Linked DNA regions of Homo sapiens: all the other regions are linked to region 2. Evidence: fine-mapped expression QTL. A gene starts in region 2. Each other region holds a variant in brackets. All regions are shown on one strand. Distances are between the middles of the regions. Region 1 has its middle 190 kb from the start of STEAP4. Region 2 holds the start of STEAP4 (STEAP4 metalloreductase). Region 3 overlaps STEAP4 (STEAP4 metalloreductase).

Region 1 (2,772 bases), 190 kb before region 2:
AATGAGTGTTATTCAACAAAAATTGAATTCGTTTATTCATTAACATAGTCGCATGATGAAAATACATCTTCTCAACCTAAATTATTGTGAATTGTAAGCAAATGTGAAAAATCCAGATGAGATTTCTATCCTTTCCCAAGTTATCTACCATCTGACTTTTCAGAGTTAGTATAATGCTATCTGGGAGCTGGCTTCATCAACACATTTTTCAAAATTTCCTAAATCATGAGAAATGTTTGTATCTGTCTATCTTTTAAATGTTAATGGTTAGGGTTTCATGTAATATATATACATAAAATATATGTTATATATATTATACATGTTATATATATATATATATATATATATATATATATATATCACTGAAAGTTCTATCGTCCTTCATATAAGAGTTAGTTTCAACATCAGAACAAGAAAAGGATTGTTTCTAATTCCCATACTAATAGGGTATTATGTCGTCTATGAAGGGCTTTAACCAATAGTTAAAAGATGAGAGGCTTCTTAAGAGGATAAATGTTTCAGCTGCACACAAGTTATTCAGCTCCTGTCATCAACCACAAGCGTTACAGTGCCAGACTTCATGAGCACAAGATGAACAGCCTGGAATAAGCAATGCATGAGAACTTTCCCAGATGTATAGTCAACCCACTTTCTGCCTGCTCACAATTTTACATACCTTTCAGTTACTCTGAGTCCTAGATGTAAAATGCAGTAGTCAGGGATATCGCATGGATTTATGGCCTTTTCTGGCGTGCTGGGAGACTCCTGCCTTGGGCGAGGATTATAATCATTCATATATGTACGGTTTCTTTTTTCCTCTGTGGCAGATGTAGCATTGATGTCTTATTTCAGGAAGTCACTTCAAAATAATTCAAGTCAAAGATATACGTGAGAAATCCACTTAACTATTTCCTAGCTCAAGTACAAAAATTAAGCTAAATAAAACGGAGAATATGAGATTGCTTTGTAGCAGGTAGCAACGCCTTTACTGAAGCAACTACATCGTAGTTCCCTGTAGGCAATGACCACTGGACATTTTCGCACAAAGTAACGCACTTCAGCCTCTGTGGTGACACAGAGGCTGGTGGAGGGGAGCAGGCTTATGGGTAGACTTAGAATTTGCCATGCTTTAAGATCAAACCAAATCCAAACATTCTGGATTTTATAATAATCCCCTAAAAATCTCAGGGGCACATTTATGGCACTCACACATTCAGAAGGCAGTGCTCCTGCAACAAGAGAACAACACTGAATCATCTGGTCTATTATGATCCATTCCAGTTCCTCAGTTGCTGTGCTAACAGCATTAACAGGTACAATTTATTGAGCGCCTACTAGATGGCAGACTCTGATCCAGACACTTCACCTACATTATCTCAAGGCATCATCACAATTCTTAAGGTAGGTACGGAGATGCCCACTCTACAAATGAGAAAACTAAATTTATAGAGGTTAAGTACCTTGCTTGTAAGTGTCATGGCCATGATTAGAAATCACTTTGTTATATTGCATACTCCTCACAAGACAGTGATTCCGTCTTCTAAGGAATAAAATGATAAATAACGTGGAGGTTTTGTGCTGAGAGAAGTCATGTGTGCTCAGATCATCTCCTTAGAGAACCATCTCTAGATCTTCTCACCTTAAACATCACCTCTCTTTCACCTCACTACCCCCCAAGAGCATAGGGTATGACAAAGAAAGGGGAAAATAAGGTTGGTAGATA[C/T]CAGGGATGGTGGGGAAAGGGATGAGGAGGTAGGACTTTGGTTTTATTTAAACATGTGTAAATATAACAAAAATATGAGGCAAATATGGAAAATATCAATGAATTATAATTCTAATTAGCCAGTATATTGGTTTCTGTTACATAATCTTTATACTTATCTCTAAGTTTGAAAAGTTTTATATTTAATTAAAGAAATTTTATTTAAAAAGTAGGTCTGGGCAAAATCAGGACATAAATATTAATACCACACTACTGTTTTACAGTTTGGTCTGAAAGTGATAGTTATTGAAGTTTCTGACAAGTGAAACGACAGTCTTGAGACTGTGATAACTCTCATAGCTGAGTGAAGAATGGATTGAAAAGGGAAGAGATGGATGAAGGTCAGGTGAATAAGTAAAAGGTCACCTCCATAATTATGGAGGAAGGTAACTAGATCTGTGCCCTGTTAAGGGCAGAGGAAGTTAAAGATGGGATAAAAGTGAGAGATTTCTGGTGGCAGTGTCCATGGAACTTTGTGGCTGACAGACTATCAAGGACAGGAGTACTGATAAGAATCGAATATAACTCCAAGCTTTCTGGGACAGTCAGTTAAACTGACCCAAAAGCCACGAAGAAAGTGGTGCAGGTTTGGAAGGAAAAGTTATTAGTTCAGTTTGGGGCCCCTATTCAGATATGTTGACAGGATATTAAAGTGAGATATCCACAGATAATACAAATAGGAGCCTAGAGCTCCAGAGGAAGATGAGGGCTAAAGACAGACAAACCAGGGTCTTCTGTGGATGTCATCATCAAGGCCATGTAACTCAATAGGACTGACCAAAAAGGAGAGCAGAATGAAAGTAGAAAGGTATACAGAGAATGGGGGGAAAAATTTAGACTCCAAAACACAGTATAGCTAAGAAATGTGGACCTTGTGTAAACACATCCTCAGCAAGGAAATTCTCAGGATCTTGAATAACTCCTCAGGGCATCAGGGTAGAATAGAATTAACATCATACCTATTACGTTCCAGAAACTACTGTAAGTATTAATGTAATACTACTTTTTTT
Region 2 (2,772 bases):
GTAAGTGTTCCATACAGGTATACCATTTTTTATCTTTTATACCACATTTTTACTATACCTTTTCTATGCTTAGATACACAAATACTTACCATTGTGTTACAACTGACTACAGTATTCAGAAAAGTAGCATACTGAACAGGTTTGTAGACTAGGAGCAATCGGCTATATACCATCTAGCCTAGGCCTGTAGTAGGTGATACCATCTAGGTTTGTGTAAGTGCACTCTATGATGTTCACACAATGACGAAATTGCTTGATGAGACATTCCTCAGAATATATTTAATAAATTGCTTAATGAGGCATTCCTCAGAATAAATCCCCATTGTTAAGTAATGCATTTTGCTAGGTGTTATGGAAAATTCCAGACTGAAAAAACTAGGGTGTCATCCCTCGAAGACTGCAGTCCAGGACAAGACACACACACATGATAATAACTCTTTTGAAAGGCAAATTGTCTTAATTGCTGTGCTAAAAGTATAAACTACTGTATAGAGAAAGAAAATATTAATTGCAACTAATGGCTAAGAAAAGACCTCTTGAAAGACATGGGGTCTGACCAACCCCACAAGAAGCTATGAGGAGAGTTGCAATCCAGACAAAGGGAAGGTTGACTCAACAACCCCTTTCCATGGGAGGAACAGGCCTCCCATGTGGCCGGGCCTCTGGAGCTTGGCAAGCGTATGCTGTGGAATTTAAGACCCATGGCTGAGTGGAGATCATTGGGAAGACTCTGGGATTTAGATTACAGAGTTTGGGAGTGTATGGATGCTTTGCCCCATAGTTTATCAGGATTATTTCAATCTTAAACAACCAGGGCTGTGGTTTTTGACCTTCTCTGTAGAAAGACACATTTGCATGTATATCATAAGGTATCCCGATCCCTCTTTCATTTGTTTTATTTCTTTAATCTACCTAAATTAAGACCTGAAAACTCAAGATCTTCCAAGTTATGAGCCCCATAAGAACCCATGGCTTCCAGGCGGAGGGGAAAGATACCACCTTTTCTATAAACTGAGACAAGATGGCAAAAGAATTGCCTAGAAGCCTAGTCCAGGTGCTGTTTTCTCAGCTACTCAAAGAGATCCTTCTTGCTCCTTTAGGAAAGGGGGATTCCTAGACCTCTCCAAACCTCAATCACCCTGGGATGCACAGATGCCAAGGGCTCGGGTGTAACCCTTAAAATCCCCGCTTCCCGGGGGTCAGCGGCACCATCAGCAGCACCGCAGTATAGAAGTTCCGGTCCTTCCAGCTGCTGGGATTCTCAGCTTGAACTCTTCCAGGAAACAAGTTCTTTTCCGCTTCTCTTGCGAAATCCAGCAGACCGTCCCGCCCTTCTCTGGCTTCTTATAGCAGCGAGAGCCACAAGCCACAGCGCTGAGCTGCAGGCGCGGCGAAACTTCCCTCTACCCGCCCGGCCCGCGGCGCGCACCGTTGGCGCTGGACGCTTCCTCCTTGGAAGCGCCTCTCCCTCAGGTGGGTCACTTTTCGCCACAAGGCTCCCGTCCCTTATCTGCTTCAGCTCACCTCCAGTCCCTGCTGCTAGGACCCCACTCCCCAGCCCATCGCACTGAAGAACAGGTGCTTGCAAACTCCCCGCCGCGCCCCGGCATCACTTTAGAGGAAAGTCACCTGAGGCTGCTCCGCGATTCAGCAAGCTTCTAACTTCCTGGAGTTTAAGGCTCATCCCTACCCCAGGGTGCAGACAAGCCCAAAGGGGGAAAATTAAGGGGTTAGATTCTTCTCTGCATCTTACTTCTGGATTGGCGCACTCTTGGGGCGCCCATCAAAAAGTAGGCTGGAAGAATGTGGCTTTAGCAGTCAGTCTCCAAGGTCTCAGATCCGAGGCTGCTTCTTGACCAGGCACTAAAAATTTGTCCTGATACCTGCAACCACTTCCATTTTTTTATCTTGATTTAAATTTCCTCTTGCAATTTAAAGGTTATTTTTCTGGAGGAAGATTGTTCAGAATATAATTTATTGTGAAGAGTAAATAAAGCCTCAGTTCCGTTTGTTTGTCCAGAGACAGAATTTTATTATTCTTTTTCCCACCTCTAGATGGTAATTTAGGAACTTTCTTTAAAAGATTGGTGTACTGAGGCTGGGTACGGTGGCTCAAGCCTGTTATCCCAACACTTTGGGAGGCCAAGGCCGATGGATCACTTGAGGTCAGGAGTTCGAGACCAGCCTGGCCAACATAGTGCAACCCAGTCTCTACTAAAAATACAAAAATTAGCCAGGCGTGGTGGCAGGTGCCTGTAATCCCAGCTACACAGGAGGCTGAGACAGGAAAATCACTTGAACCTGGGAGGTGGAGGTTGCAGTGAGCTGAGAAAGTGAATTGGATAGAGAATGGGGGAGGGGAGGAAGAATACTATTCCTAGTTCTATAATAACTAGAACCTCATTATCTCAGCCTCAGTTTCCACAGATGTAAAATAAAAGGCTGGCTACTGGGCCAGATGATCCAGAAAGTTCAACTCTAACAAGGTGAAAAGCCGTGACTAAAGATGCCTGCAAGTTTGAAATACATAGAAAATCTCCTTAATGCTACAACTATAATTCAGTGGTTACTTTTTTCATAATAATGCATGTTCCATTTTTATAAGGAAACTCTCCAGTTGTCGGGGGAAGAGTCTCTTCCCACAGGAGCATCTTAAAGTTCTGCCACATTTATCATTCAGAGAATACTCTCAGCTTTCAAAACCATTCTTCAGCCTTGCTATGTGAGAATGTCCTATTCCCTACAAATGGCAGTCATATAAATGTCACTCAC
Region 3 (2,772 bases), 37 kb after region 2:
AAACAAACCAAGACACCTTCTTTCACATATATGGAAAGATGTCCAAAATATACTGTTCAGTTTTTAAAAAGGTACAAAATAACATATATAGTATGATTCCTTTTGCATATGTGTATTTGCTTTTAATTGCCTAAAGAAACTCTCAGAAGGATTCAAAAGATCCATACCAAACAAGATGGGAGAACAGAGGAGTAGTGACAGGAGTAGAAGCACTGTAGACCTTTTCATATCATTTTGGTTTTTAAATTACATGAGTAGGTTACCTAATTATTAAAATAAATTTAATTTAAAAGGTAATGGGGGATAGGAAGAAATTTGTTAAAAGATACAAAATTACAGCTAGATAGGAAGATTAAGTTGTAGTGTTCTATAGCTCTGTAGGATGACTACAGTTAACAATAATATATATTCTAAATAGCTAGAAGGAGGATATTGAATGTTCTCAACAGAAAGAAATGATAAATGCTTAAGATGATGGATATACTAATTACCCTAATCTGATCACTGTATATTTTGTGTATTGCAATGTCACTATGTACCCCATAAATATGTATAATTATCGTGTGTCAATTAAAAATTTTTAATTAAAAAATTATAAACAAAAAATTTTTTAAAGTAATTGATTGCATATCCCTGCTAAATCTTATCTTACGCTAAACACCAGCACATTCACTGTTTTCTCTTGTATAAAAATTTCTAAATCTTTCATCTTTCTGGTGCCTCTTGTTCAGATCTACAAACATTTCAATGTTCCTTTTAAAACACAGTTCCCTAAACCAAAAACATGATATTTTTCCCTTCTTTCACATTCTGTAATTAAAATAGTATTTAAATTCCTAGTAGACATTTTAGGAATATTCAACAACAAAAAGTTGTCCATTATTTCATCTGTATTGGCATTTTTCCCCATATGAAAAAGACTTAAAATACTTTAATATAAAATAAATTTTCAATAAAAATAGTTTTTATAAAACTGGCTAAAAATAGCAAGTAGGCATCAAAAATATAACTCCAGTTGAGGTGCAGGTTTAGAGTATAACGTGATTGTTGCTTCTGTTATTCTAACTTGTGAGTCTCTATTAATTTAGTGTACATGTTCACTGTAAATTTTTATAGTCGCAAAATTTCAGGATCACATCAAATAATATGCCTAATTTCTTTTCACATAAAGCATTAATTCCAGTCTCTCCATAGTCTGCCCCTCTAGCCCCATCTCTGCCCCCTTCCACCACCAAACCATCCACCCTACACTGATTACCATTAATATTTTTAAACCTAAGTACAAAGCAAAAATATCTTGCACTATCTGCACTGTCTTTGCAATAATGCTATAAATCTAAAATTATTTTAAAATACTATGACCCTAACATTGTTCTAAAATAAAAGGTTTACTTAAAAAAAAGCACTCACCATATTCTTATTAAAGTTTATCTCATATAAATTAACCTATCCTTCAGCATAGAAAATTGTTTTAAATATTAATTCCCTTTTCCAAAAGATATGCTCTACACATATTTCCTAAACATGGCCTCCATGTCTTTATTTTAGTTTTTGATAGGAAATACAGAAACGTTATCCATAACCTCCAACTCCAACTATAGTGTTTTTTAGACTACATGAAGCCTAGAGATTATCTAATAGTATACATTCATTTCACAGATGTG[G/T]AAACTGAACCCAAGAGGGTGAAGTAATTTCTGCAAGGTCACATAGCTACATTGCAACAAAGCAGAATTGGACCACAGATGACTGATTTTCAGGCTAGGGTTTTTTCCGATCCTTTTGAAATCAGGTGATTAAGTTGAAAACAAGCTGGTTGTAGATCCAAAAAAAAATGGGGGTCAAAAGGGCTGATCCGAAACAGGTATATCCAGTGACAATTTTGGACTTTTCAGTCTGTGATGAGTACTTTGCCTTTAAAAAACATGACAGAGACTAAAGAAACAGAATTATCTAGTGGTATATTTAGGCTGACTGTGATTATTGGAATTCTAAAGAATGATACACAACATTTTCCCCTTCTTTAACGTTCTCTCATTAAAATAATATTTAAAGTCTTAGTAAACATTTTAGGAATATTCAACAACAAAAAGTTGTCCATTATTTCATCTCTGTTGGAATTCTTCCCCATATGAAGAAGACTGTTAAAACTGCTTTAATATAAAATAATTTTACAATAAAAATAGTTTTTATAAAACTGGCTAAAAATACCAAGTAGACATCAGTGGCAGTCATGGAAGATGACCTACTCAGATGTTCCTTCAAGAGAACCTGCTGCAAGGAAACATAACAAATAAACAACTTTCAACTGGCCCACATTATTGATAAGCACCACGTTATTCACATGATCCACATTGCCCTTGGGCTGCTCCCAGGCAATGACCATGCATAACAGAGATACTAGAACAAAGCCATCATTGCCTCAAAAGAGCTTCCTCTAATGGATCATTGCCTCATATGAGCTTCCTCTAATGGATCATTGCCTCATATGAGCTTCCTCTAATGGGCAGCATTTGCTTGGATGTTCCCACTGGGCCAGCCAAGACCTTTTCACATCTGCACTATGATCTGGATCTCCTCCTATCCAATGTTTCCCTTGCCTTCATCTTTTGCACGTGTAAGACCAGCATTGCAATATGAAGGCTCCCTCCTCCTTTATCCTTTAAGTCATTTCTTCCAATAAATCTCCCATCCTATCTTGGTACCTGCTTCTTGGAGAACCTAACTGACAAAGCATCACAGGCAGAAAAGCAGCAAAATAAATAACTTTTGTTA

What was found.
Region 1: its variant is fine-mapped to the expression of STEAP4 in monocytes after LPS (Fairfax 2014, PIP 0.95).
Region 3: its variant is fine-mapped to the expression of STEAP4 in whole blood (TOPMed, PIP above 0.99).

The regions. Positions count from the first base shown.
Region 1 is chr7:88,498,195-88,500,966 of GRCh38, reverse strand. No RefSeq gene overlaps it. Among named protein-coding and RNA genes, the nearest start is that of STEAP4, 190 kb to the right of the region's middle. The variant C/T (reference allele first, on the strand shown) is at 1,724.
Region 2 is chr7:88,305,493-88,308,264 of GRCh38, reverse strand. It overlaps STEAP4 (STEAP4 metalloreductase), which reads left to right and starts at 1,371. Exons shown (of 5, transcript NM_024636.4): 1 at 1,371-1,473. All of the region lies in intron 1 of LOC124901692 (a long non-coding RNA gene), which reads right to left.
Region 3 is chr7:88,268,726-88,271,497 of GRCh38, reverse strand. STEAP4 (STEAP4 metalloreductase) reads left to right here. Exons shown (of 5, transcript NM_024636.4): 5 at 1-606. Among named protein-coding and RNA genes, the nearest start is that of STEAP4, 37 kb to the left of the region's middle. The variant G/T (reference allele first, on the strand shown) is at 1,665.